Regions from separate parts of the Homo sapiens genome. Here region 1 is linked to region 2. The links come from fine-mapping of genetic effects on gene expression. A gene starts in region 2. The other region holds a variant in brackets. All regions are shown on one strand. Distances are between the middles of the regions.

What was found.
Region 1: its variant is fine-mapped to the expression of RFK in whole blood (INTERVAL, PIP 0.98).

Annotation. Positions count from the first base shown.
Region 1 is chr9:76,429,402-76,444,679 of GRCh38, reverse strand. It overlaps a transcript of GCNT1 not described here. Among named protein-coding and RNA genes, the nearest start is that of GCNT1, 22 kb to the left of the region's middle. RefSeq lists an enhancer at 5,750-5,839. The variant C/T (reference allele first, on the strand shown) is at 7,942.
Region 2 is chr9:76,385,344-76,400,621 of GRCh38, reverse strand. It overlaps RFK (riboflavin kinase), which reads left to right and starts at 6,196. Exons shown (of 4, transcript NM_018339.6): 1 at 6,196-6,532; 2 at 8,053-8,204; 3 at 11,966-12,068; 4 at 13,093-15,096. The coding sequence starts at 6,451. The coding sequence ends at 13,223. It also overlaps a transcript of GCNT1 not described here and the pseudogene RPSAP9. RefSeq lists enhancers at 5,538-5,777, 5,955-6,249, 6,112-6,925 and silencers at 6,058-6,117, 6,138-6,217, 6,258-6,747, 11,275-11,569.

The sequences.
Region 1 (15,278 bases), 44 kb before region 2:
TATCTGGTGTCTCCAAATTATATTAAACCCTCTCTAATCAGGTGCTTAGTCCCGTGCCTCTAGGGAAACTGCCCCTGTCCATTTCAGCTCTGTGGTTCTAAATCCAGCAGACATTTATCTAAACTTGTTTTACCTGTACTCTCAGCAGCATTTCAGACAAATCGTCACTCCTTGACCTTGAAACCCTTTTTCCTCACCTGGACTCTTAATCCTCATGGTTTTGTTCTCGTCACTCTTTGTCAGCCTTCAGTTTCCTCCTCTTCCCCCAGGCCTCTTAACCCTGCAGAGCTTCACGACTCAGGCCTCAGATCTCTTCTTTTTTCTCTACAGCCCTTCTGTATGGCCTCATCCAACCTCATGCTGTTAAGTACATCTAGATTTAACCTCGACATCGCTCTGATTTCTATCTCTAGTCTGGACCTGTCCTCAGAACTCCAGACTCATATTTCCAACTGCTTAGTAAACATCTCCCTTTACAGGTAAAATTGGCATTTCAAACAAACATGTCCAATACGCAGCTCCTTATCTTCTTCTCCCGGAGCCTGCTTCTCCCACTTTTCTCCCGGACTTACTCATTGACAACTCCACCTAGTTGCTCAGGCCAAACACTCCTGGAGTCATCTGTCTTGCCTCTCTTTCTCACAAAGCACACACCCAATTCAACAAATGCTTCTGGCTCTTTTTTTCTTCCTTCCTTCCTTCCTTCCTTCCTTCCTTCCTTCCTTCCTTCCTTCCTTCCTTCCTTCCTTTCTTCCTTTCTTCCTTTCTTCCTTTCTTCCTTTCTTTCTTTCTTTCTTTCTTTCCTTTTTTTAGACAGAGTCTCACTCTGTTGCCCAGGCTGGAGTGCAGTGGCTCACTGAAACCTCCGCCTCCCAGGTTCAAGCGATTCTCCTGCTTCAGCCTCCCAAGTAGCTGGGACTATAGGCATGCACCACCACACCTGGCTAGCTTTTGTATCTTTAGTAGAGACGGATGTTGGGAACAAATCCCCCAAAATCTGGCCATAAACTGGCCCCAAAACTGGCCATAAACAAAATCTCTGCAGCACTGTGACATGTTCATGATGGCCATAATAGCCATGCTGGAAGGTTGTGGGTTTACCGGAATGAGGGCAAGGAACACCTGGCCCACCCAGGGTGGAAAACCGCTTAAAGGCATTCTTAAGCCACAAACAATAGCATGAGCAATCTGTGCCTTAAGGACATGCTCCTGCTGCAGTTAACTAGCCCAACCTATTCCTTTAATTCGGCCCATCCCTTCGTTTCCCATAAGGGATACTTTTAGTTAATTTAATATCTATAGAAACAATGCTAATGACTGGCTTGCTGTTAATAAATACGTGGGTAAATCTCTGTTCAGGGCTCTCAGCTCTGAAGGCTGTGAGACCCCTGATATCCCACTTCACACCTCTATATTTCTGTGTGTGTGTCTTTAATTCCTCTAGCACCACTGGGTTAGGGTCTCCCCAACCGAGCTGGTCTTCACAGACGGGGTTTCACCATGTTGGCCAGGCTGGTCTCGAACTCCTGAGCTCAAGTGATCTGCCTGCCTTGGCCTCCCAAATTGCTGGGGTTACAGGTGTGAGCCATTGAACCTGGCCTCTATTTCAAAATATATCCAGATTAGGATCCCTTTTACCCATCTCCATTGCTACCACCTTGGGCCATGCTACTGCTGTATCTCACCTGACATCTCCTGCTTCCTCTCATGCCCCACATACAGCCTGGGATTACAGGCATGAGCCACTGAGCCTGGCCAGTGTTTGTTTTGTTTTAAATCCATTTTGGCTTTAGTATATTCCCAACATCTATAAAAGTGCTTGGCTCAAAGTAGGAGGAGCTCAATAATATTTGATGAATAAATAAGAGAATAAATGAATGAATACTTTATCTTCATATGGTACTTTGTAACTTAAGAACCATTTTCACATTTCTCTTACTACTTCTGATAATCGGATAATCAGATAAAACCACTGTGTTAGTTTCTTTCTTTCTTTTTTGAGATGGAGTCTCACTCTGTCGCCCAGGCTGGAGTGCGGTGGCATGATCTTGGCTCACTGCAACCTCTGCCTCACGGGTTCAAGTGGTTCTCCTGCCTCAGCCTCCCAAGTAGCTGGGATTACAGGCGCCTACCACCAAGCCCAGCTAATTTTTGTATTTTTAGTAGAGACAGGGTTTTGCCATGTTGGCCAGGCTGGTCTCGAACTCCTGACCTCAAGTGATCCGCCCACCTCAGCCTCCCAAAGTGCTTGGATTACAGGCATGAGCCATGGCGCCTGGTCACAACTGTGTTAGTTTCTTATTGCTGCTGTAACAAACTACCACACACAGCATGGCTATAAGCAACACAAATTTATTTTCTTACCGTTCTGTAGGTCAGAAGTCTGAAGCAGGTCTCACTGGCCTAAAATCGAGGTGTCAGCAGAACCGTGTTTCTTTCTGGGAGCTTTAGAGGAAAATCTATTTCCTTGCCATTTCTAGCTTCTCGAAGCCTCTCTCATTCATTGACTGTGGGCCTTCCTCCGGCTTCAAAACCAGCAATGGTCAGTTAAGTCCTTCTCAGATGAAGTCACTGTGACCTCTGCTTCTGGCTTCACATCCCCTGAGCCAGAGCTGGTGAAGAGAGGTGTCTCTGAGTCACACTGTGCGAATTGCCATGGAACAGAGTTAAGCTGTTTTCACATTGATCCGTATCACAAGTGAGTGTTTTCCCCAGCTCTGAGTCAGTCTTTCTTTTTAAATCCAAAACCATATTATTAAGTTTTTAAAAAATCATGATTGCTTTACTTCTTCAGGTTTCAGGTTTCTCAGACATAAAACCTTAAAACAGAAATGAATACCTGATGATTGCATTCCAGTTGTCTGCATTACCCATTAAGAGTCTCTGACCTTTTCTGGTCCCAGGAAACCTCAAAGAATAATCTGCATTTTCCACTTCATAGGTCTTAATGGGAGCAGGACTGTGGAAGGTGACACTGCGGCTTCTCCCTCCTTAACAGTTCACCTATGGTCTGTCTGGTATGACTCACACTTTCTTCGTGTCTCAAATTTCCCACATACGAAACAGATACTATGATGAAAATATAGCCCATTTAATTATGTGAAGTGTTTTGAACAAAATTGTTATAATGTCTTAGCATAATGTGGACTTTTTGTACATCATCTAGTCTGATGGTTCTCACCATTGCTACCCACTGGAATTACTTATGGAACCTTAACAAATCCTGATGCTGGCTGAGAGTGGTGATGGCTCATGCCTGTAATCCCAGCACTTTGAGAGGCCGAGGCAGGCAGATCACCTGAAGTCAGGAGTTTGAGACCAGCCTGGCCAACATGGTAAAACCCCGTCTCTACTAAAAATAAAAAAATTAGCCAGGCATGGTGGTGGGCACCTGTAGTCTCAGCTACTCTGGAGGCTGAGGCAGGAGAATTGCTTGAGGCCGGGAGGCGGATGTTGCAGTGAGCTGAGATCGCGCCACTGCACTCCAGCCTGGGTGACAGAGCAAGACTTCGTCTCAAACAACAACAAAAATCCTGATGCCTAGGTCCTGCACCAAGGATTCTGATGTGATTGCTATGGAATGTGGCCTAGGCATAGGTTTTTTTGTTTTTTTTTGAGATGGAGTCTCTCTTTGTTGCCCAGGCTGGAGTGCAGTGGTGTGATCTTGGCTCACTGCAACCTCCGCCTCCCGGGTTCAAGCAATTTTTCCTACCTCAGCCTCCTCAGTAGCTGGGATTACAGGCATGCACCACCATGCCCAGCTAATTTTTGTATTTTTAGTAGAGATGGGGTTTCACCATGTTGGTCAGGCTGGTCTTGATCTCCTGACCTTGTGATCCACCCGCCTCAACCTCCCAAAGTGCTGGGATTACAGGCATGAGTCACTGCACCCGGCAGGCATAGGCATTTTTAAAAGCTCCCCAGCTGATTCTAACGTGCAACCAAGTCTGGGACCAGGGAAGACTCCTCTTAGGTAGCTCTAAACAAGCTCTTGTGGATGAGCCACTTTCTGGACCCAGTCCCCAAGTCATCCCCTGTGAGTGCAGCTCATTCTCCCCTCTGGGTTTTGGTCCTAGCAACCATCAGGAAGGAGACAGGACAGGTGGGTGCAGGACCTCAGCCCCACACAGGGCAGGGGGACACACAGGTTGCAACATCATAGTGAAAAGGACCGGAATCTGATGAGGACACACTGGAAACATGGTACCACTGTAACCCAGGTTTCCTCCTCACCTGTGGAGCAAATATAAATCAGGGAAATGTAGATTGATGTCACCTTCATTCATCACAGCTTTAGTGAAACCTGGCAACTGGGGAATTTTTTGTTCACAAGGCAAACAAAGTCTTCAATTTAATTCCTTTAAATTCCTTGAAGATTATATTAACTAGTAGGTGAGGTTAAGACTTTTGAAAGTCATGTGGGTATTGAACTGAACTGCTCTTAGAAGAAAATTCAGAGAGAAGGTGATGTGGGTCAGGAGCAGGAAGAGATGCTGAGCCAAGAAGAGAGATTTGGGACATGAGATACCTCAAAAGGTTTGTTAGTTTATTCATTTTTTCTTTTTTTTTTTTTTTATTTTTGCGACGGAATTTCGCTCTTGCCCAGGCTGGAGTGCAATGGTGGGATTTCGGCTCACTGCAACCTCCGCCTCCTGGGTTCAAGCGATTCTCCTGCCTCAGCCTCCCAAGTAACTGGGATTACAGGTGCCCACCACCAAGCCCGGCTAATTTTTTGTATTTTTAGTAGAGACAGGGTTTCACCGTGTTGGCCAGGATGGTCTCGATCTCCTGACCTCAGGTGATCTGCCCACCTCAGCCTCCCAAAGTGCTAGGATTACAGGCATGAGCCAATGCGCCCAGCCTTGGTTTATTTTTAAGTGCAATCTTGATATCATGTGGTACAACTTCTCTCTTCTAGCTTCCTTCTAAAATATTGAATAAATTTTATATTCCTCACTATTGCATTCATATTAGTGCAAGGAGAGCACTGTTTTCAAAGAATTCAAAGAGGAGAGAGCCATAAGAATATGAGTCACAATCTGAAGAAAGACGCACACAGCTTTTACCAACAACTGATTTACCTCCATCTCTACTAAGGAAATGCAGACAAAATTTTTTTTTCATTTTTTCTTTTCCTTTTTAAAAACACAAATGGGGCCAGGCATGGTGGCTCACGCCTGTAATCCTAGCACTTTGGGAGGCCAAGTTGGGCAGATCACCTGAGGTCAGGAGTTTCAGACCAGCCTGGCCAACATGGCGAAGCCCCATCTCTACTAGAAATACCAAAATTAGCCTGGCGTGGTGCCACGCACCTGTAATCCAAGCTACAAGGGAGGCTGAGGTGGAGGGATCACTTGAACCTGGGAGGCAGAGGTTGCAGTGAGCTGGGATCACACCACTGCACTCCAGCCTGGGAGACAGAGTGAGACTGTCTCAAAAAAAAAAAAAAAAAAAAAGAAAAAGAAAAGAAAACACAGATTGCTGACTGCACATCAGAGTTTCTGATTTAGTAGGTGAGGAATTCTAACAAGTTCCCAGGTGATACTGAAGCTACTGGTCTGGGAACCACCCTTTCAGAACCACTGGCTTACAACACTCTCATAGAAATTATTTCCTACTTTCATGTTTTATCATGGTCTGTTCTTTGAAATGTTAATAAGTCTGACGAGAAAAGAAAAGAGTGTTGTGGTCAAATGTGTAAGGGAAGTTAAGATTCTTTAGAGAAATCAAAACTTACTGCCCACACATACACGGCTTACTATCTATCAAGCTTGTCCAACCCAAGGCCCATAGTCTGCATGCAGCCCAGGAGGGCTTTCAATGAGGCCCAACACAAATTCATAAACTTTCTTAAAACATTATGAGTTTTTTTTTTTTTTTCTCATTGGCTATCATTAATGTTAGTGTATTTTATGTGTGGCCCAAGACAATTCTTCTTCCAATGTGGCCCAGGGAAGCCAAAAGATTGGAAACCCCTGGTACATTTACCTGACTTTCTTATTTCAGGAAATTTTTACTCAGAAGGATGAAATGGCTGTAAACAAAAAATTAAATTCTAAGCTCCCCTAATCATCTGAATGAACCCCTCCTTTCAGTCAGGGGCATTCCAGAGTTAACCTGAAAAACTAATTCAAGTCATGATGGAAGAGAGGCTCACATATGCCTCATTATACCCCTTCAGCATTAACATCAACACAGACCTTAAGTCTGATAAGAAAAGTTTACAGTCTACTCTCTACAAAGTCTGCTACTGAGAAGCTTCAACTGCCTGATAAGGCCTTAGTCTCCACAACACCTTATTATAACCCAGACATTCGTGTCTCCTTTCTACTGATAACTCTTTCAATCAGTTACCAATCAGAAAAATTTTAAATCTACCTATGACCTGGAAGCCACCCCCCACACCTCCCTTTGAGTTGTCCTACCTTTCCAGATCAAACCCACGTAAATATTACATGTATTGATTGATGCATTATGTCTCCCTAAAATGTATAAAAGCAAGATGTACCCCAACCACCTTGGGCACATGTCATCAGGACCTCCTGAGGCTGTGTGACAGGCATGTCCTTAACCTTGGCAAAATAAAGTCTCTAAATTGCTTGAGACCTGTCTCAGATACTTTTGGGTTCAAATGGACAAAAATTTTATTTGTTCTAGGAACTTTCTGAAAATCCATTAGTCCAAACACTAGACTACTCAATTTATCCTCATTAAAGTAAGTACCACTTTCCAAGGAAAATAGATACAATCAAAAGATCATTTACTCTTTAAGACATGCTTGGGAACTCTCACCTTGCTGTGTCCACCAATGCTAAACCATTGTGTCACATACTTGTCCAATCCTAATCAAGCTCTATATCAAAATAGCCACCTTACTCCAGATTCCACAAACCTAATAAATATTCTGCTTTGCCCTCACCCTTCCAAGAAGCCAGTAAGACTCTTGTTATGAAAATGATCTTGTTACCAGAAAGGGGTCCTGATCCACACCCCAAGAGATGGTTCTTGGATCTCACAAAAGAAAGAATTCAGGGCGAGTCCATAGAGTAAAGTGAAAACAAGTATAGTAGAAAAGTAAGGGACTAAAGAATGGCTACTCTATAGACAGAGCATCCCCAAGGGTTGCTGGTTGCCCATTTTTATGGTTATTCCTTGATGATATGCTAAACAAAGGGTGGATTATTCATGCCTCCCCTTTTTAGACCATATAAGGTAACTTCCTGACGTTGCCATGGCATTTGTAAACTGTCATGGCGCTGGTGGGAGCGTAGCAGTAAGGATAATCAGAGGTCGCTCTCATTGCCATCTTGGTTTTGGTGGGGTTTGGCCGGCTTCTTTACTGCACACTGTTTTATCAGCAAGATCTTCATGACCTGTATCTAAGTACCGACCTCCCAGCTCATCCTGTGACTTAGAATGCTGAACCGTCTGGGAATGCAGCCCAGTAAGTTTCAGCCTTATTTTACCCAGCTCCTATTCAAGATGGAGTTGCTCTTGTTCACATGTTTCTGACAATCTCTCTCTCTCTCTTTTTTTCCCCATATATTTATTTTTTTCTTTTCTTTTTTTATTATTATACTTTAAGTTCTAGGGTACATGTGCACAATGTGCAGGTTTGCTACATATGTATACATGTGCCATGTTGGTGTGCTGCACCCGTTAACTTATCATTTACATTAGGTATATCTCCTAATGCTATCCCTTCCCCCTCCCCACACCCCACGACAGGCCCTGGTGTGTGATGCTCCCCACCCTGTGTCCAAGTGTTCTCATTGTTCAATTCCCACCTATGAGTGAGAACATGCAGTGTTTGGTTTTCTGTCTGACAATCTCTCTTACCTCAACAAGCACTGAACTAAGCCTGGTGCTATCCATCCATTTTGAGGGAGTCAGCATTCAACTATCCATTGCCTTTACTTCCTATATTAGGTTAGGTTGCTC[C/T]TATTAATTCCTGTCTTACTCACAGCTTGTGACTGGAAAATAGTAGGCATTCAATAAATCAATAAATGTTATTTGAGTAAATGGACGAAATTTTCAGTTTTTAATATGCTATTGTGCCTTTTTTTTTTTTTTTTTTTTTTGAGATGGAATCTTACTCTGTCGCACAGGCTGGAGTGCAGAGTGCAGTGGTGCGATCTCAGCTCACTGTAACCTTCACCTCCCAGGGTCAAGTGATTCTTTTGCCTCAGCCTCTGGAGTACTTGGGATTACAGGCAGGCACATGCCACCATGCCCAGTTAATTTTTGTATTTTTAGCAGAGATGGGCTTTCACCATGTTGGCCAGGCTGATCTTGAACTCCTGACCTCAAGTGATCTGCCTGCCTCTGCCTCCCAAGGCATTGTGACTTTCTAAGCAGGGAAATGGTGTAATTTCCCCCAAATTCCCACCACTTGTGGAAGGTATGTTCCTCAAACACCCTTTGGACAACCCTATCCTAATTTGTTACACAGATGTTTTCTTATAAGATGGAGGCCGAGGTAGGTGGATCACCTGAGGTCAGGAGTTCAAGACCATCCTGGGCAACATGGTGAAACCCCATATCTACTAAAAACACAAAAATTAGCCAGGCATGGTGGCACATGCCTGTAATCCCACCTACTGGGGAGGCTGAGGAGGGAGAATTGAACCCAGGAGGCAGAGGTTGTAGTGAGCCGAGATCGTGCCACTGCACTCCAGCCTGGGTGACAGAGCGAGATTCTGTCTCAAAAAAAAAAAAAAAAAAAAAAGATATGGGAACTACTGCTTAGCACTCTGTCATTCTTACTAAAGGAAGTGCTCCAGGATTGAATGTACCAATAAATTTAAGACCCTTCACTGTGTGAAAACCCTAATCTTAGGACTCTTTTCCACTCAAGATTATGGTCTTTGTTATGGACCTAATTGTGTCCCTCCCCAAATTCATATGTTGAAGTCCCAACCTCTGATGTGACTGTATTTGGAGATAGGGCTTTAAGAATGTAATTAACATTAAATGAGGTAATAAGGCTGGGACCTTAATACAATAGGACCAGTGTCCTTGTAAGAAGAGTAAAAGACACCTAAGAACTCTTTCTCTCTCTTTGTGGGTACACACAAGAGGACAGACACAGTGAGAAGATGGCCATCAACAAACCAGAAAGAGAAGCCTCACCAGAAACCAAACTTGCTGGCACCTTATTCTTGGATTGCTAGCCTCCAGAACTGTGAAGAAATAAATTCTGTTGTTTTAGCCACAGAGTCTGTGGTAACTTGTTATGGTAGTGGGAGCTGACTAATTCAGTCTTCTTGAGGCTGAATTTGGGACCAGTGGGGGAACTGGTCCCAAAATTTCAACGTAGGCTCTTTCTATTTTCCATAATTGCTGGCCAGTCTGAGAAATAAAGAGAAAGACTACAAAGAGAGGAATTTTACAGCTGGGCCGCCAGGGGTGACATCACATATCAGTAGGTCCATGATGCCCACCCGAGCCGCAAAACCAGCAAATTTTCATTAGGGATTTTAAAAGGGGAGGGGCTGTATGAACAGGGAGTAGCTCACAAAGATCACATGCTTCAAAGGGAAAAAGGGAGAACAAAGATCACATGGTTCTGAGGAAACAGGGCAAGGACAAAAGCAAAGATCACAAGGCAAAGGTCAAAATTAGAATTACTGATGACGGTCTATGTTCAGCTGTGCACGTATTGTCTTGATAAACATCTTAAACAACAGAAAACATGGTTCGAGAGCAGAGAACTGGTCTGACCTCAAATTTACCAGGGTGGGATTTCTTCCCCACCCTAATAAGCCTGAGGGTACTGCAGGAGACGGGGCGTATTTCAGTCCTTATCTCAACCACACTTCCAGAGTGGCTGTTTATAGACCTCTCCCCAGGAATGCAATTCTTTTCCTAGGGTCTTAATATTATATTCCTTGCTAGGAAAAGAATTTAGCGATATCTCTCTTACTTGCACATCCATTTATAGGCTCTCTGCAAGAAGAAAAATATGGCTCTTTTTGCCCCACCCCGCAGGCAGTCAGACCTTATGGTTGTCTTCCCTTGTTCCCTAAAATCGGTGTTATTCTGTTAGTTTTCAAGGTGCACTGATTTCATATTTTTCAAACACACATGTTTTACAATCAGATTTCATGTTGTTCAAACACAAGTTTTACAATCAATTTGTACAGTTAACACAATCATCACAGGGTCCTGAGGTGACATACATCCGCAGCTTACAAAGATAACAGGATTAAGAGATTAAAGACAGGCATAAGAAATTATAAAAGTATTATTAGGGGAGTGATAAATGTCCATGAAATCACAATTTATGTTCCTCTGCCATGGCTCCAGCCAGTCACTCCATTCGGGGTCCCTGACTTCCCACAATAGTGAGTCCTGAACATGACCTATGGCTCAGAGAGCTCTCTCTAGCCTATTTATCCTGGTGTCATAGCTTCTGTTGATGATGATAATCATACTACATTAGTCCCCCCTTATCCACAGGAGATACGTTCCAAGACCCCCAGTGGATACTCGAAATCCTTAATAGTACTGAACCCTGTAAGTGCTATGCTTTTTCCTATGCATAATGTGAAAATAAAATGTAAAAGCTGTTGAAATCCCCCAAACACTATAAGCCTTGAGAGAGATGTGACTCTGATCTGAGTCATGCAGCATGTAGTTGTAACTTCTACTTCTTAGGTTATAGATTAAGTGAACCGAAGAATAAGGAGGAACTGCTGTATTATTTTTATATAACTTTGAATTTTACAGAGCTCTTTCACAGGCATCAGCTCAGTGGCACTTTGCAACAATTGAGGGATATGAGGAGGTTCACTGAAGGACAACAAACTGAGGGCTGAAGTCACAGCCACTAGAAAGTAGAAGGGTCAGAATCCCCTATTGTCTTAAATCCATCACACATCCTACTATCTGGTACTGACACAGGATTTTTCTCAACCACCTTGCCAGCAGGAAACCTCCAGCCGGTGATACCCCTGCCCAGGCTTCCCTCAGCCCAGGGCTCCCTGCAAGAGGCACCCTGCCCACTCAGCCTGCCAAACTGTGCCTGGCTTGCACTCCAGCATGGATCCTGTGGCCACCGCGACTGCAGCACTCAGCCCCTGGCAGGAGGGGGTGTGTGGGCAAGTGAGTCCAGGGTCTGGCTGGCCTCTCCAAAGGCCAGCACAGGAGCAGTCTACATGTGGGGCTAGTGGCTGGCCCAGGCATGTGGCAAGTGACTCCCATGGTGGACTCCAGCATACAGATGAGGGGTACGCCGTGGCACACAAACAGCAAAACCTGCAACCCCAAAGCCCCAGAGGGGGTGTTACAGTGTGCTAACAGCTGTTTTAGTTCCTCCACAGCCTGATGAACAGGGGCACGTTAACAGTTCTGTCAGTCCCATTGCCCCACTCCAGCCCACAGGTTTGGGGATGACCTGGCCCTGCTGCTTTCCGTTACGTGGGGCAACTGCTGAGCTCCGAAGAGGGGGCAGGGCAGAGGGCTACAGTGTTACTGTCGTCTTTGTACCTGCATTCGGAGGGGTCCCAAGTTCTTGGTCCGCATCCAAGAAGAATGAGATTATGCTGACTATTGAAGGGTGAGGAGGGCAGAGAAGAGTTTTATTGAGTGATGAAACAGCTAATGAAACAGCTCTCAGTAGAGAGGGGCCACAAGGGTGGTCTCCCACTTGGTCGGGTGGTCTCTCTCTCAGTGTGGCTGGGTATGGGGCTTTTGTGGGCTCAGAAGGCAGGAGTGCATGCTAATTGGTTTGTGAGTATCCAAAAAAGCCTAAAACAAAGGCACCGTTCAAAGGTGAGCACGACTGTAAAAAAACAATTAGGAAAGAGAAGGTATATATAAAATAGGTGAAGGGTGAGGATCAATCAAAGGAAAGCATGACAAATAGAAAGAGATTCTCAATCCAGTTCCTATGTTTATGCAAGACTTTTAGCTTGGCTTTCAGGCTTTAAACTGCCTTTGGCTTGAAGGTGGGGTTTTACCAGGGATCCACCCCATCTGCCTAGTCATTTGACTGCCTCCTACCGCTATCAGTATGTGAAAGACAATATTAAACTAAGGATGGGCACAGTGGAGCACGCCTGTAATCCCAGCACTTTGGGAGGCCCAGGCAGGCGGATCACCTAGGCTCAGGAGTTCTCAACCAGCCTGGGCAACATGGCGAAACCCTGTCTCTATAAAAAATACAAAAATAAGCCAGACATGGTGCTGCGTGCCTGTAGTCCCTGCTACTCTGGAGGCTGAGGTGGGACCGCTTGAGCCTAGAAGGTTGAGACTGCAGTGAGCCATGATTACACCACTGCATTTGAGCCTGGGCAACAGAGTGAAACCCTGTCTTGAAAAAACAAAAAACAAACAAATATATTAAACTAGATATTAGACATTTTAAGACTCAATTGCCCATATTTTCACTAGACAATTTTAATTTGGATTGCCTACATTTTTTTTGGACTAGATGTAATGTATTTTATGTAATATACTAAATGTAATATATTTAGGTCACCCAATAAAAAATTTGGTCTTTGTCTCATGCTTTTGGCAAGGAGCTTCTAAAACCCTTGGAATTTCTTTCCTTTTTTTTCCTTTTCTTGAGACAGAATTTTGCTCTGTTGCCCAGGCTGGAGTGCAGTGGTGCAATCTCAGCTTGCTGCCACCTCTGCCTCCCGGGTTTAAGCGATTCTTCTGCCTCAGGCTCTCAAGAAGCTGGGATTATGGGTGCCCATGACCACACCCGGCTAATTTTTGCATTTTTAGTAGAGATGGGGTTTCACCATGCTGGCCAGGCTGGTCTCAAACTCCTGACCTCAATTGATCCATCCACCTCGCCTCGCAAAGTGCAGGAATTACAGGCATGAGCCAACGTGGCTGGCCTGGAATTTCTTAAGGGATAGGAGTCTTTGTTGTGTTAATGAGGTATTAATGGCAGGCTCTTGGATGGCTACAGCTAGGGGACTGGTCACTGGAAAGACCAACCGCTTAATTTGAGGGTTGGCGCTTTGATATCAGCCTGACCTCCCGACTTCCAAAGAGGCGACTGGGGCTGGAGATTGAGTTCAATCAAGTGGACAGTGATTAAATCAATCATGCCTAGATAATGAAACCCCAATAAAAGACTCTGGTCATGGAGGCTCAGTGGGACTTCCGGGTTGGTGAACACATTGATGTGCTAGGAGGGTGATGTTTCCTGATTTCAAGAGGAGAGAGCAAGAAAGCTCTGTGTTCTCTCCCAGACCTCACCCTATGCGTAACTTTTATAATAAAATTATAATCATAAGTGTAGCACTTTCCTGAGTTCTGTGAGTTGTCCTAGCAAGTTACTGAAACTGAGTGGATCATGGGACCCCCAAATCTGTAGCGAGTAGGTCAGAGTATGGATGACCTGGGGTCCCTGCTAAGGGCTGGCATCTGATGTGAGGGCAGTCTTGTGGAGGATTGAGCCTTACCTTGTGGAGTCTGATGCTAACTCCATGTGGTTAGTGTCAGAACTAAATTTCAGTGCACCTAGTTATTGTTAGCCCAGTTGGGGATTTTGCCAGGACGTTTTAACATATTCATTTACTTTCCTCCCTCTGTAACAGATGTTCATTTTAGAAAATTTAGATATGAGAAAATAAAAATCATCTGTAACTCCACTACCCAAATTGAACTACTCCAATATATATTCTTTCATTCTTTTTCCTGTGTATGTGTGTGCATGTTACTTTAAGAGATGAGGCCAGGTACAGTGGCTCATGCCCGTAATCCCGGCACTTTGGGAGGCCAAGGTAGGTGGATTGCTTGAGGTCAGGAGTTCGAGACCAGCCTGGCCAACATGGTGAAACCCTATCTGTACTAAAATTACAAAAATTAGCTGGGTGTGGTTTGGTGTACACCTGTATTCCCAGCTACTCAGGGGCCTGAGGCACAAGAATCACTTGAGCCTGGGAGGCGGAGGTTGCAGTGAGCTGAGATTGCACCACTGCACTTCAGCCTGGGCCATTGAGTGAGACTTGGTCTCAAAAAAAAAGAGGACTAACCAGGTGCAGTGGCTCATTCTTGTAATCCCAGCACTTTGGGAGACCAAGGAAGGAGGATGGCTTGAGCTCAGGAGTTCATGACCAGCCTAGGCAACATAGTGAGACCTCATTTCTACCAAAATAAAAAAAAAAAATTAGTCGAACATGGTGGCAAGCACCCTTAGTCCCAGTTACTGAGGAGGCTGAGGTGGAAGGATCACTTGAGCCCCCGAGGTCAAGGATGCAGGGAGCCATGATCCCACTACTGCACTCCAGCCTGGGCAACAGAGTGAAACCCTGTTAAAAAAAAAATGAGTGTTCTGTCAATAATTATGTGAAAAGATATACAACCTTACTAATGACCAGAAAAATGCAAATTAAAATAGAAACAATAATGAGATTTTTTAAATCCTTCTCGGATTGGCAAAAAATTTAAAAGTCATGTAATACCAAGTGTTGTCAAGAATGTAGGGAAATAGAACTTTCACCCACTGCCAGTATATAGTAGGTTGCAAAAAAACAGCCACCTATTTCTCCCATTCCTGTATACATAACGCTTTACTATATAATTTTGTCTCTTTTGCCACCAAAGGCTAGAGTATATTTCTCTGCCCCTTGAATCTGAGCTTGGTCATGTGCCTTGCTTTGGCTAATGGGACATTTGCAAATGTGATGAAAATAGAGGCTTGAGGCTGGGCATGGTGACTCACGCCTGTAATCCCAGCACTTTGGGAGGCCGAGGCGGGCAGATCACAAGGTCAGGAGATCGAGACCATCCTGGCTAACATGGTGAAACCCCATCTCTAATAAAAATACAAAAAATTAGCCGGGCGTGGTGGCGGGTGCGTGTAGTCCCAGCTACTCAGGAGGCTGAGGCAGGAGGATGGCAGGAACCCGGGAGGCGGAGCTTGCAGTGAGCCGAGATTGCGCCACTGAACTCCAGCCTAGGAGACAGCGAGACTCCGTCTCAAAAAAAAAAAAAAAAAAAGAAAGAAAACAGAGGCTTGAAAACCTTCTATTCATTAGGGCTTGTACTTTCTTGCTGGCAAGAATCTTTCTGCTTGTATGTGAGCAAGCTGGACCTAGCCTCCTAAATGATGAGAGAGACTCCAGCTGTCACATATGAATAAACTATCTTAGAAAATCCAGTCCTGGCCAAGATCACCAGCCCAGGAGAACAGGCTGCCAATCCAAAAAATCATGAGAAATAATAAATGTTGGTTTTTAGGCCACTGTATTAAGGAATGATTTGCTACACAGCAAAAACTACTTGATACACAATGGGAGTATAAATTGATACAA
Region 2 (15,278 bases):
CCTAGGGCTTCTGGGTAGAGAATGTAGAGGCAGGAGCTGAGGAGTGTGATAGGGAGAATCTGTGAACAATGGTTTAGTTTAGACTGATCCTAAGACAGAGGGAAGCAGAACATGACTTTTAGTGTGATTTGATCAGATTGGCATTTGAAAGGTTATAGCAGCACGAAAAAGCAGTAGAGAGAGACTAGTGTCAAATCTAAGGCTGGGAGAATAGAGTTGGCTACACCTGTGCAGGTAAGGGGTCATGGCTTGCATTCAGTGGGAGGAGGGGTAAAAATGGATTGGGAGAGACTTGGTAACTATTTAGGTGTGGAAGGTGTGAACGTTGATGTCAGACTCCAAGTCAGAAATTTTTAGATTAATTATTCAAAAACTAATAGACTCTACTTTTTAGAGCAGTTTTAGGTTGGCAGCTGCTGTTGCTGTATAGTTCTATGGGTTTTGATACATGCATAATGTCATATATTCATGAGGACAGTATCATACAGAATAGTTTCACTGCCCTAAAAATCCCCTGTGCTTCACATTCATCCCTCCCTCCGACCTCCAACTTCCCCAAACCCTGGTAACCACTGATCTGTTTACTGTCTCCATAGTTTTATTCAGAATGTAATATAATTGGAATCATGTGTTATGTAGCCTTTTCAGACTGGCTTCTTTCACTTAGTAATATGCAGTTAAGTTTCCTCTAGGTCTTTTTGTGGCTTGATAGCTCATTTCTTTTTAGCACAGAATAGTATGGCATTATATGGATATACAACAGCTTGTTTATCCCACCTATTGAAGGACATCTCAGTTGCTTCCACGTTTTGGCAATTCTGAATAAAGCTGCTATAAACATCCATGTGAAACAAAATAAAAATAAAATAAAATAGAAATAAAACATCCATTCATCCATTCCATTTGCATTCAGTGGGAGTAGGGGTAAAAATGGATTGGGGTAAAAACAAATAGGTTTTTTTTTTTTTAAGAAACTGATGTTTATTTTCCATCAACCATTTTTCCATGTTGCTTAAGAGCCTATGCAAGAACAGCTTAAGACCAGTCAGTGGTTGCTCCTACCCATTCAGTGGCCTGAGCAGTGGGAGCTGCAGACCAGTCTTCCGTGGCAGGCTGAGCGCTCCAGTCTTCAGTAGGGAACTGCTGAATAGGCACAGAGGGCACCTGTACACCTTCAGACCAGTCTGCAACCTCAGGCTGAGTAGCAGTGAACTCAGGAGCTGGAGCAGTCCATTCACCCTGAAATTCCTCCTTGGTCACTGCCTTTTCAGCAGCAGCCTGCTCTTCTTTTTCAATATCTTCAGGATCTCTGTAGAAGTAGAGATCAGGCATGACCTCCCACGGGTGGTCATAGGAAATCGTGCTACACATGCGCAGAACTTCCCGAGCCAGCATCTACCACATCAAACCCACTGAGTGAGCTCCCTTGTTGTTGCATGGGATGGCAATGTCCACATAGCGCATAGGAGAATCTGTGTTACACAGAGCAATGGTAGGTAGGTTAACATAAGATGCCTCCGTGAGAGGCTGGTGGTCAGCCCTGGGGTCAGTAACCACAAGAAGCCATGGCTCCCGGAAGGCTGCCTGGATCTGGTTAGTGAAGGTTCCAGGAGTGAAGTGGCCAGCAATTGGAGTGGCTCCAGTGGCAGCAGCAAACTTCAGCACAGCCCTCTGGCCAGTATTCCTGGAGGATATAACACTGACATCAGCAGGGTTTTCAATGGCAACAATAGCACTAGCTGCCAGCAGAAGCTTCTCCCAGGTCCTCTTCAGATTTATGATATAGATGCCATTACTTTTCCTTTTACAGATGTACTGTTCCATCTGGAAGTCAAGATTGGTGCCACCTAAGTGGGTTCCTGCTGCAAGGAACTTAAGGACATCCTCCTCCTTCATTTGCAGGACATCAAGGGCTCCGGACATTGTGAAAGTTTCCCTTTAAGTTACGACGGGAATCCAGAACAACGCCGTATGGGCCCCTCTGTAGGTAGCGCGGAAAGCAAAAACAAATAGGTTTTTGTGTGGATAAAAGTTTTCACCTCATTTGATTAAATATAAGTGAGCACAATTTCTGGATAACATAGTAAAAGTACGTTTAGTTTTATAAGAAACTGCCATATTATCTTCCAAGGGGCTGTACCATTTTGTATTCCCACCAACAATGAATGAAAGTTCCTGTTGCTCTACATGGTTGCCAGCATTTGGTGTTGTCAGTGTTCTGAATTTTGGCCATTCTAATTGGTATATAGTAGTATCTCATTGTTGTTTTAATTTGTATTTCCCTCACGATATATGATGTTGAACATCTTTTCATATGCTTATTCAGATCTTTTGCTCATTTTTTAATTGAGTTGCTTATTTTCTTATTGCTGAATTTTAAGAATTCTTCAGATTCATTTTTCATTGCTTACTTAGAATAAGCCTTCTTTTCCCTCACAAGCTGCCAGTTCTACTTTCTCTTTAGTCTTATTTGTGATCCTTCTTTCTACAGAGACAAATTAAACCAGAGAAGTGGACTCTTTCCCTACAGGCAGCTGAAAGGATGTGCAAGTGCAGTTCAGAGGGGGAAATAAAAAACACGTTTTAGAATACTTCCTTGGTTAAAAGCAGTAAGTTTGGCAAAGACACATAGACTCTCAACTCTAGATTTACTGAGAATGCTAGGTAGCATATTTTTGGAGTCAAATGAAGAAGAAAAATTATAAATCCTATAGCCTACAGAATAATTATTGAATTATTTGAAGCATATGCTTTGGCCTCTGAAGCAAGGTGGAGGGGTCTGCTTTGATCAACAGATTGAGTACTTGATGGGAGTTCTTAGAAGTACAACTCTTGGAGGGTTTATTCTTCAGTCAGAGGGGAGGAGCCATTGAACGCTATTGAGCGGTGGTGGAAAATGATCAGAATTCTTCCTTCTTGGGAGGCCGAGGAAGGTGGATCACTTGAAGCCAGGAGTTCCAGAACAGCCTGGCCAACATGATGAAACCCTGTCTCTATTAAAAATGCAAAAATTAGCCGGGCGTGGTGGCATAAACCTGTAGTCCCAGCTACTCGGGAGGCTGAGGCAGGAGAATCACTTGAGCCCGGGAGGTGGAGGTTGCAGTGAGCCGAGATTGCGCCACTGCACTCCAACCTGAGTGACAGAGTGAGACTCTGGTTCAAAAAAAAAAAAAAAAATTCTTTCTTCTATATCCTATGCTGATAACACAGTAATTACCCATATGACTTGACATGTAAATGGTAGTTTTAAAGATTGGAGCCTGACTGCTCCATCTTAAACATTCTACAAGACTCTCCTTTTTTTTTTTAAATCTATCTATTTATTTATGTATTATTTATTGAGAAGGAATCTTGCTCTGTCACTCAGGCTGGAGTACAATGGAGCAATCTCGGCTCATAGCAACCTCCGCCTCCTGGGTTCAAGCGATTCTTCCGCCCCAGTCTCCCGAGTAGCTGGGATTACTGGCATTCACTGCCATGCCTGGCTAATTTTTGTATTTTTAGTAGAGACCGAGTTTTGCCATGTTGTCCAGGCTGGTATTGAACTCCTGGCCTCAGGTGATCCACCTGCCTCGGTCTCCCAAAGTGCTGGGATTACAGGCAAGAGCCACTGCGCCCGGCCTATTTATTTTTTTAGTGACCGTGTCTTGCTTTGTCATTAGGCTGGAGTGCAGTGGTTCAATCACAGCTCACTGCTGCCTCAAATTCTGGGGCTCAGGCGATCCTCACTCCTCAGTTTCCCAAGTAGCTGGGGCTATAGGCACGAGCCACCACCACCTGGCTGAGACAGAGTCTCGCTCTGTTGCCCCATATGGAGTGCAGTGGCGTGATCTCCAGCTCACTGCAACTGCCGCCAGGTTCGAGCGACTCTTGTGCCTCGGCCTCCAGGGTATCTAGGACCACAGGTGAGCGCCACCACTCCCGGCTAATTTTTGTATTTTTTGTAGAGACGGGGTTTCACCATGTTGCCCAGGCTGGTCTCCAACTCCTGAGCTCAAGTGATCCACCGGCCTCAGCCTCCCAAAGTGCTGGGATTACAGGCATGAGCCACTGTGCCAGGCCCTGGCTGATTTTTAAAATTTTCTTTCTTATTTTCTCCTCTTCTTTTCTTTCCCCTTTCTTCTTTTTTTTCTTGTTTCTTTTCTTTTCTTTCTTTTTTCTCTCTTTCTTACTTATTTTTATTTTAAAATTTTTGGATAGACGGAAGTCTCCCTATTTTGCCCAGGCTGGTCTTGAACTCCTCAGCTCAAGAGATCCGCTCACCTCGGTCTCCCAGAGTGCTGGGATTACAGGCGTAAGCCACCATGCCCCGCCCATTTTTATACGTTTAGGTTAATGCTTTCCAACAAAGCTGATGAGAGGATTACATGAGACAGTGTGAAAAATACTTAGCATTTTCTCTATTCTTAAAACCACCCCTCCTCATTTACCTCCTATGATTCATTTAATTATTTTATCTCATTTAATTCTCATACCTTCTTGCAACCTAGGGCTTAGTGGCGTAAGACCCAGGGATGATTTATCAAGTTCTCACCTCCAGGCTTTTCTTATTAGGTGTATCACTGCTGATGAAGTTAAAAATATACCATTCTTGCATATTGACTATTTTGAATTAAAAGCACTTGAAAAACAATAGATACAAAAAAATCATTCTGACCTCTTTTCTGTTTCTTAGAAGCAGATGAAATTACCATATGAGAGACATCCTCCCTATATTAGAAGGAATGCAGCACTCTTATTAAGGACGGGAGTCAAGAGTGAGAGAATCCTGTACACACCTTGCTAAAATAACTCTTAAGCCTCTCCAGATAACTTAATTGCTTTTCACAACTTGCTATTACTACTCTTACTACCGGTATTACTATTATCGTTATTCTCATTATTCTTTGTTTAATTCCGTATAGATAAGTAACTGACCATAATTGCTTCTTTGGGTCCTTCTCTCCCTTCCCTTCCCTTTTCTTCCCTTTCACTTTCCCTTCCCCTTTCCTTTCCCTTCCCTCCCTTCCTTCTTCTTCTCTAGTTCTTTTAAGGGGTGAGGGTGTCTCACTGTGTCGCCCAGTCTGGAGTGCAGTGGCGTTATCATAGCTCAGTGCAGCCTCGACCTCCTGGGCTCAATCAATCCTCCCGCGTCGGCCTCTCAAACTACTGGGAATACAGGCGTGAGCCACCAAGCCTGGCCTAGAACATAAATTTAATATCAGGTAAATCTTATCAGAGATGCATACATGTAAGGTAGAAAGAGACTACACGGTCTGCACAGAATTTTATACAAATGTATAGAGCAAAAAAGAAAAAAATTAAACTTCTCTGGATTCCATTGATTAAAAATTTAAAAAAATAAATAAAAAACTTCTTTGTCTTCGAGACGTTAAGAGGATGCACCTTCTTATAACCTTGCACCCTGCATATCCTGTGAGTGAGCCCAGAGCTACTTCCCTAGGAGCGTGCGTATTTACAGTTCCGAGGGTACGAAGGCCTCTATCTGCATTGCAGTAGAGGGACGGCCTGTTATCGGGCTTGTGAAATTGTCAAGAAGACAGCCTGGAGGGGACAGTCACCGCCCATGTCGGTAACCTTCCACTAGTCTCTGGGGTTAACAGCGTCACAGACAGGGACTTCTCCCTTGGAGCTTACATTCGAATATATTAATAACTCCAGAACGTGGTCAGTGGTCCTGGAGGACGACCGCTTCTGGTAGGGCGGCCAGGAAAAGCCTCTGTGAAGAGGCGATCTTTGAGCTGAATTTTGGAGCTTTAATAAATACTTAAAGAGCGAACGGAACGAGCGATGCCTGACGTTCAACCCAGCGGTTGCCAAGGAGCTAAAGAGCGTCTCACTTTGGCTTCCGGATTGTTATGAACAGGAGGAAGGAGAAAAAAAAACCAGAATTGTTCGAGAATTGTGCTTTCGCGGCTCTCAGGCTGAAAACGGGGTTTCCACATTAGTTCCCATCGCCAGGGGCTGAAACGAAGCCCGGGATCCAGACATTAGGCGCCTGGGGCGGGAGCCTGCAGCGGGAGCTTGCGGCGGGAGCCGGGCGAGGCAGCGGCGGGGCGGGGCCATGATGGGGCGGGGCTACGGAAGCCGAGCGGGCTCGAGGCGTTCGGCTGAGGAAGGGAGCGCACGCCGGCGGCGCGGAGGCCGGCTCTGCGCTTCGGGCCGCCCCCTCCCCCCACCCCGCTCACACCCGGCACTTACTTCGGCTGTCTCCGCTGCCCTCCAGCGGAGACGCAGCTCCTCAGGCGCCCGGCGGTATTTGTTGGGTCGGCGGCGTCAGGGATTCGCAGTGGCCTGTGGTCGGCGTCGTCCGGCCACTGGTGCGCCCCCGCGGCAGGCAGAGCTCACGCTCCTGTCCCCCGGCTGGTCCGGGGTCTGGGCGCCGCGTCGACGGCGGCTCCGCAGGACGCGCAGACCGGGCCGCAGCCCATTCCCCGAGCGGACTGCATTATGAGGCACCTGCCTTACTTCTGCCGGGGTCAAGTGGTGCGGGGCTTCGGCCGCGGCTCCAAGCAGCTGGGCATCCCCACAGGTGAGAGCAGGGCGGCCAGAGTCCCCCGGGCCGGGTCACGTGGGGAGCGGGGAGAGACGGCAGCCGGGGACTTGGGACCGGGGCGTGGGGCCTCCGGACCGCGGGCAGAGAGCACACCCTTCCTCCTCCCGCATCCCCTTGTCTGTGGCGGAGGACCGTTGGCTCGGTTGAGGGAGCTTGTCCCTGCTTCTGGCTCCGAGCTCCGCGGGGACGGGGTTGAGGGGTGGTGAGGGCCGGAAGCCCGAGATGAATCGCAGGATTCCCCGTTCACGCCTCCTTGGCCAGCCAAGGTACAGTTGGTCAAGCATTGCGCTTGTCTTGCCCATTAGAGACGTAACGTGGGCCAGAACGGCTGAACTCGCAAGCCGGGTCTAAGGTGGTTTTGTTTTTAATTTGTAATTATGTAATGTCCAAATGATAACATAGGTAGTTGAATGAGAGTCAGCTAACCTTCTTGGTCTGTCTACATTAATTTCAATAATCGAGACCTGACTGTAATTCATCCTTAGAAATACATGCCAGAGCTGCGTCTTGACTTGTTAAGTCAGCCTTGAGCTTGTGTATTTGAAAAATAAGAAGCTTTGGCCGGGCGTGGTGGCTCACGCCTGTAATCCCAGCACTTTGGGAGGCCGAGGCGGGCGGATCATCTGAGCTCAGGAGTTCGAGATCAGCCTGGCCAACATGGTAAAACCCCGTCTCTGCTAAAAATACAAAAATTAGCTGGGCATGGTGGCGCGTGCCTGTCATCCCAGCTACTCGGGAACCTGAGGCAGGAGAATCGCTTGAACCCAGGAGACGGAGGCTGCAGTGAGGCGAGATCGTGCCACTGCCCTCCAGCCTGGGCGACAGAGTGAGACACCGTCTCAAAAAAAAAAAAAAAAGAAAGAAACTTTTCAGGTGATTCAGTACCTGGTTAGGAAAGAACAGATCTGAAAAAATCCATCTACTCTGGTACTTGTTTTTTGCATCCTACTCAAAGAGTATGGATTTTTTTGGAGAGCTTTATATACTTACCTGGTACTTTATTCATAACCTATTCACATGAATAGGAGAGGGAAATCTGAGCCGGAAAATGGAAGGATGGGATTGATACTTACAGGCAAAGTTGTAGGAGTCTTGTGAATGTAATGATTTACATTAGCCTTGCATGTGATTTTTACAAATGTTTGTTTCTTATTATTATTTTGAGACAGAATCTGGCTCTGCCACTCAGGCTGGAGTGCAGTGGTAGTGCGATCATAGCTTACTGCAGCCTCCATCTGCTGGGCTCAACTGACCCTCCTGCCTCAGCCTCTCTGGTAGCTTAGACTATAGGTGCAGGCCACCATCCCCAGCTAATTTTTTAATAGAGGTAAGATCTCACTATGTTACCCGGGCCGGTCTCAAACCCCAGAGCTCAACATGAGCCTCCTGCCTTGGCCTCTCAAAGTCCTAGAATTACAGACATGAGCCACTGCACTCGGCTACAGGCATTTAATACGAAATTTGTAAGACTCAAAATATTTTCTTCTGTTGTTTAGCTAATTTTCCTGAGCAAGTGGTAGATAATCTTCCAGCTGATATATCCACTGGTATTTACTATGGTTGGGCCAGTGTTGGAAGTGGAGATGTCCATAAGATGGTGGTGAGCATAGGATGGAACCCATATTACAAGAATACGAAGAAGTCTATGGTAAGCATTATATTTTGCTCTGTAACCGAAAATGGTATGATGACTTAGAATAATATATTACAGTATTCGTTACAGAAATAGCTTATCAGTGGTAATCACAACGTAGTTCAAATACTGGAATTTTGGGCAATCTCTGTCTTTTAATTGGAGAGTTTAATTCATTTACATTTAAAGTAATTTCTGATAAGGAGGGACATCTACTGTTTTGCTATTTGTTTTTTATATGCCTTATAACTTTTATGTCCCTCATTTCCTCTATTACTGCCTTTTGTGGTAGTGTGCTTTTTGTTTTGTTTTGTTTTGTAGTGACATTTTAATTCCTTTCTCATTGCTTTCTGTGTATTTCTATAGATACTGTCTTTGTGGTTACCATGGGGTTTATATTTAACATCCTGAAATTCTAAAAGTTTAATTTGAGTTTATACCAACTTAATTTCAATAGCATACAGAACTCAGAAATTGCATCTTTTTTTTTTTTTTTAAAGATGGGGTCTCACTATGTTGCCCAGACTGAAGTGCAGTAGCTGTTCACAGGCCAGGTTGTAGCACACTGTAGCTTCAAACTCATGGGCTCAAGTAATCCTCCTCCAGCCTCCAGAGAGCTGGGACTATAGGTACATGCCACTGCCTGCATCTGGCTCAGATTACATCCTTATACATTGTGGTACCCAATAACAAAGATTAATAATTGGTTTTTTTATGCATTTATTTTTTAAATTATGTAGAAAATAAAGAGTGGAGTTACAAACCAAAATTATAATACTGACTTTGATAATTGCTGTCTGTGAAAGACTCACTTGACCAAAGATAAAAATGATTTAAAAGCCTGTTTCATAAAATTGAGCTTGCCACAATTAATGCACTTCATTCACCATTTACTTCATGCATCAATTGCGCTTGGTCACCCTCTTAAGATAAAACAGTTTACTACATGGATGGTGGATGGAGGATGGTGCTTATTGATACAGTCCCACATTGGTGCTTTTCTCTTTCCTTTTTAAACCACCTGAGGGTATACTTTTCTGCCCTACTCTTTACAGGACCCCACAACTTCAGTGTTTTATCTGTTAGATTTGGCTGAATCTTTTGTCAGCTCAAATGTGTGGCAAAAACAAATTACAGTGAAGCTAAATTTTGTTCTGTGTGGAGTTAATAGAAGTGAAGTGTGTCACTGCTGGAAAACTACAGAGCTAAATGCTGGCGTAAGCAATAGTAATGACGCAGAAGTACTTAACATTTTGCTCAGTATTTCAGTTATTTTTCAGTATTAATGATTTGAAAATTATTTTTTGGAGACAAGGAAAACAATCGAAAGATCACAAAATACCATTCTGTTGAATGAGGAAGGAAAAGAAGGGGAGGGGACAATAGCCCATAACTAATTTGTCTTTAGCTACTTAGATAACAAAAATGTTATTATACAGCCAGTTAAGGAATGCCTTTTGAGTGTTAGGAAAAATTGAATTTGAAACATAGGCATATCTTACCAGTGGAAAATTGAACTTTTGCTTGCCTTTGCCAGTAACACACATCTGTGAAGTGCCTGTGCCAGACCTTTGTCCTTTAAAAAAAAAAAAAGCGTTATCTTACTGACCTTAAATAAGTTCTTAGTAACACATCTAGATCCACTTCCTTTGTTGGAACTGTGTATTGTTGTATTACAAATTTCTTTCATTGTGTGTGTGTGTGTGGTTTTTTTTTTTTTTTTCTCAATGGTGTGTTGAAGAACAGAGTTTTGTTTTGTTTTGTATTTTCAGATAGGGTCTTGCTCTGTCACCCAGGCTGCAGTGCAGTGGTGCAATCTCAGCTCACTGCAGCCTCAACTTTCTGGGCTGAAGTGATCCTCCCATCACAGCCTCCCGAGTAGCTAGGACCACAGGCATGTGCCACCATGCTTGGCTATTTTTAAATTTTTTTATAGAGATGAGATTTCAGCATGTTACACAGACTGGTCTCAAACTTTTGGGCTCAAGCAGTCCTCCTGCCTCAGCCTCCCAAAGTGCCAGGATTACAGGCATGAGCATGGCACCCAGCCCAGAGGTTCTTAATTTTAATACAATCCAGTTCAATATTTTTTTTATAGTTAGTGCTTTATATAATCTGTTTCAGAAATCTTTGACTACTCCAAAGTCATGAAGATACTTGTCTGTGGTTTTTTTCTAAAAGTTTAATTGACTGACATATCTTCAAATTGACTTTTTTAGTATGGTATCTGATAGGGATTTAAATTAATATTTTTTTCCATATGGATGTAGAATTGACCCAGCCTATTCATTGAAAATACCATGCTTTCACAACAGTGCTGTAGTGTCACCTGGGACATAAATCAAGTGACCTTATATGTGTGTGAGTCCAAAAATTCACATACATACTTGGTTTGCTTGTCTTATCATAGGTCTTGATACCTAGTTGTATAAGCCCTCTAGTTTTGTTCTCAAGATTTTCATGAATAATTTTGGTTTTTCCATATAAATTTTAGAATCACTTGTCAGTTTCTCCTATTTTAAAAAACCTGCTAGGATTTTGATTGGGGCAGCATTGAATTCGTAGATTACTTTGGGAAGTTTGCCATTTCTCTCAATAATGTCTTGTAATTGTCAGTGTCAGGGTCTTACATATTTTTTAAAATTATTTTTAAATTTTTTTTTGAGATGGAGTCTTCGCTCTGTCGCCAAGGCTAGAGTGCTGGAGTGCAGTGGTGTGATCTTGGCTCACTGCAACCTCCGCCTCCTGGGTTTGAGCAATTCTCCTGCCTCAGCCTCCTGAGTAGCTGGGACTATAGGCATGCGCCACCATGCCCAGCTAATTTTTGTGTTTTTAGTAGAGTACCGGGTTCCACCATGTTGGCCAAGCTGGTCTTGAACTCTTGACCTCAAGTGATCCTCCTGGCTCCGCCTCCCAAAGTGCTGGGATTACAGGCATGAACTACTGCACCCAACCAGTCTTACATATCTTAGTTTCTTTTTTATTATTCAAATGTTTACTGAAAAGAAAGAATATATTGGTTCATAGCCCCAAAGTCATGGGGCACTTTATGTATCTTCTAACTCAAGCCGCCCCCCACCCATTACAGACGAGAAAACTGAGCCCCGCGGAAGCTAGTTATACAGTTAACCAAGTGTGGGAACCCAGACTTTTGACTCTAAGTCAGTGCTCTTAACCTCTTAACCACAGTACTGCCCAGATGATTTAGCTGAACTAGATTCTGAGGCACTTTCTACGTCATGCGGCATTTTGCTTTAATGTGCTGTGTACCCTTTTGCCACTTTACTCCCTGATCAGGAAGCTGCATTGGCTCTCCTGCCCCTTCAGTCCTCAGCTCTGCCAAACTCTGAAGTTTCCATACATGTTGTGTGTCAGACGTGTGCAAATGCTGACTGACCTTAACAACTAGTTGTTTAGTAGTAACATCTTTTAATACTTTGCTCATTCCCTCTTTGGTGTCCTGTTTTCTCACCTTGATAAGATACTTACTTCCTTGGATACGTGTCAGTTTTTTTGTTATTGTTTGTTTGTTTGTTTTTAAGTAACAGCAAATCATGCCAGACACTGTCACCTCACTCAGTTAGGTTTATAAGATCCAAACAGGAGTGCTGGGAAAATTTAGGAAAAACTGCACTTAGATTTTAACCTGAATCTTTAAAAGTTTAAGGAGTGTTGATTGTTTCATTTAAATTAACTCACCATAAACATGAAGATGTATTTCAGATTTCAGTACACTGTAGTCTGATAGCACTCTTTGTAACATTTCTTGACTATAGGAAACACATATCATGCATACCTTCAAAGAGGACTTCTATGGGGAAATCCTCAATGTGGCCATTGTTGGCTACCTGAGACCAGAAAAGAACTTTGATTCTTTAGGTAAGTTCTTATTTTGATCTTCTTAAATACTACTACTGCTACCACAGGTAACTCTACCACTACTACCAGTAATAATGATGGCAGGACAGATAATATTTGAGCATTTAATATATGCCAGGCACCGTTTTAAGTGCTTTACGTGAATCTATCTTCTTTCACCTGTGAGGGATTATTTTGCCTATTTCTCAGATGAGGAAATGGCACAGAGAGATTAAGTAACATTCTCAAAGTCACATAGTAAATAACGGAGTCTAGCTTTGAACCTAGCAGGCTGGCTGCTTCTCTCCAGCGGTATGAAGTTAATGAAATCTTTCAAAATGTGTGAAGTTTGAGATATAGTAAATCAGAGAACATTTGAAACATGTTACCAGGTATGTATTAGTGTAGTGTGATAGTTTTAACTCTGTTATAAAGTTTCTTTTACAAGTGTAAATACCAACCAAAAATAATAGTGAATGCTTTTTTCCTCCATTTGATATTTGCAGTGTACATTTATGCCTATGCCTTTCTCTTAAAATATAAGATTAGGGACATACCTTTGTTTGTTTGTTTGTTTGAGACAGAGTTTTGCTCTTTGTTACCCAGGCTGGAGTGCAGTGACGCCCCCTCTCACCGCAACCTCCACCTCCCAGGTTCAAGCGATTCTCCTGCCTCAGCTTCCTGAGTAGCTGGGATTACAGGCACCCACCATCACACCCCGCTAATTTTTGTAGTTTTAGTAGAGTCAGGTTTCACCATGCTGGCCAGGCTGGTCTCGAACTCCGGACTTCAGGTGATCTGCCCGCCTCAGCTTCCCAAAGTGCTGGGATTACAGGCATGAGCCACTGCCCCCGGCCTAGGGACATATCTTTTGTGTACCATTGACTTAGGCCTGGAAGGAGTGATGGAACAAACATTTATTGGGTATCTACCCTGTGCAGAGATACTGCCAGCCTGTGAGTTTTTAGGATTGGCTAAACAGAGTAGTAGTAAAAAGTATGTTAATGGTTTTTCATCATTTTTACCTGGTATATTCTCTCTGCAGAGTCACTTATTTCAGCAATTCAAGGTGATATTGAAGAAGCTAAGAAACGACTAGAGTTACCAGAACATTTGAAAATCAAAGAAGACAATTTCTTCCAGGTTTCTAAAAGCAAAATAATGAATGGCCACTGATGAAAAATTGTATTATTTATTCATTCACTGTTTTCTAGTGTTTCTGTGTTTATTACTGTTCAGCATCATCTTGGTTATATACTGAAAATCAAACACTTTACTACAGTTGTGAATTAGTTTAAACCGTACAATGTTGTTATCATATCATGCTTCAACTATTAAATTAAGCCCATCATATCATAGCACTAAAAAGATTGAGTTAAAAATAAGATTTAAAAAATATATATTGATTAAAATGTACCACTAGAAAGGTATTACATGTGTATAAGTATGGGTAAAAAGGCAAGTCACTAGTTTGAGATGAAAACTAAAATTTTCATGGTAAAATGCCAGCATGTATGTACTTGTGTAGTGTGTACTTCTAAACAGAGAAGGCTTATAAAAGTAAATGCATTAAGGCCAAGTGCAGTGGCTCACACCGGTAATCCCAGCACTTTGGGAGGCCGAGGTGGGAGGATTGCTTGAGCTCATGAGTTCAAGACCAGCCTGGGCAACATAGCGAGACTCCATCTCTATAAATAAAAAAAAAGGAAATGCATTAAATAGAAGGTTGATAGTTTATCATAAACCTGCGGGGAAGAAACTCAGACTTTCTATTTTTGATATTTTGTGCATTAATACATTACAAACATGAAGATGTTTGTAAAGTTTTGTTTTAGTCATTTTCTTTGCAGTCACATCATTGTACCACCTTCATTATTGTATAGAGCTGCTTCAATTCTGAGTCCTCTGGACTTCCCCTGCCTATCTGTTTGTTGTTGTTGTTGAAGACAGTAAAATAAGTGTTTTCAAATCTATATGTCTCCTTTTTGTTGGATAATGTTTCTTCTTTTTAATGGTAAATATTCTTGTTCTTCAACATTTTTCTTTGGTTCTTTTTTCCTTTTTTAGGAAAAACAAAACAACAGACTTCATCCTTAGGTTTTCTCAAGATTTAAGTGAACACATTTACACATATCAATTTCTTAAAGAACACAAAATGTTTCCTCCCTAGCAAAACTATTTAAGAGCCAATTAAACTATGAAATAGTTATAAAATTATTTTTAATATTTAAGGCCTTGAAATTATATTCCAAGGCAAATCTAAATGGGTGTAGTTGTATATGCACGATGTAATTTAATGCTAAAGAGTACTTACAGCTTGAGGGAAAAGCATAAAGTTTTAGTTAAATAGCCTTCATACTGTGGATTTTTCCTCCTACTAACTAATATGTGGGAAATTAAGATTACAGATGCTTTGGGCCCCCTCAAACAGTACATTGCTACAGTTCACTGTAGCAACAGATTTGGTGGTGATGGGGGGATAGAGGTAGAAGCAGATAGAAGGTAATTTTAAAGTTAATTTATTATGAATCATTTTCCCCTAATCTGCATAAATGAATTAGAACTGATTTTAATAAAAATATTCTGTGTAAAAAGTACTCAGAAAAACATCTAAAGCTGTTGGAGAAGAGGGACTCATATAAATAGTTGGATTGCGTTTTGCTTTTTATTTCTTTATAAAAATATGTCAAAAACAGTTTTTAATTTTAGAAATCTTATACTTGAAAGAAACCTCAATTATCAGTGGCTTTATGAAGTAAAGTTAAAAACAAACATAGGAAATGTGAAAATATTTGTGTTTGTTTTGTCTGACTAACTTGCTGCTAAATGCTATCTTTAGGTGTGTGAAAGTTCTTTGATATGTTATTGTCCTTTTACATCTTGTTAAATAGCCATTGCTTTTGAGAATCAGATAGTGTGTTGTTTAGGGGTTAATTGTGTCTATATCTTTCAAAAACTTTTATATTATGTATTATAAGAAGTTACAGTAGTACCATTTTGATTAGTCTGAATGTTTTCAGGCCTTGAAATAAATTTTGACTAAGTGATATTTTTTCTTTCCCTGTGTCAGCTTGAATCTTACTTTATGTATTTCGAATTTGTTGGCTGATTGCTACTCTTAAGTGTGTGAAGTTGCCTGAAGAGCAAGATATAGGTGGCAGCTGTAGTTCTACAACAAAGGGCCTTGCCTTCAGGATCCCCTGTGTTTTATGCCTGCAACACAGTGACTGA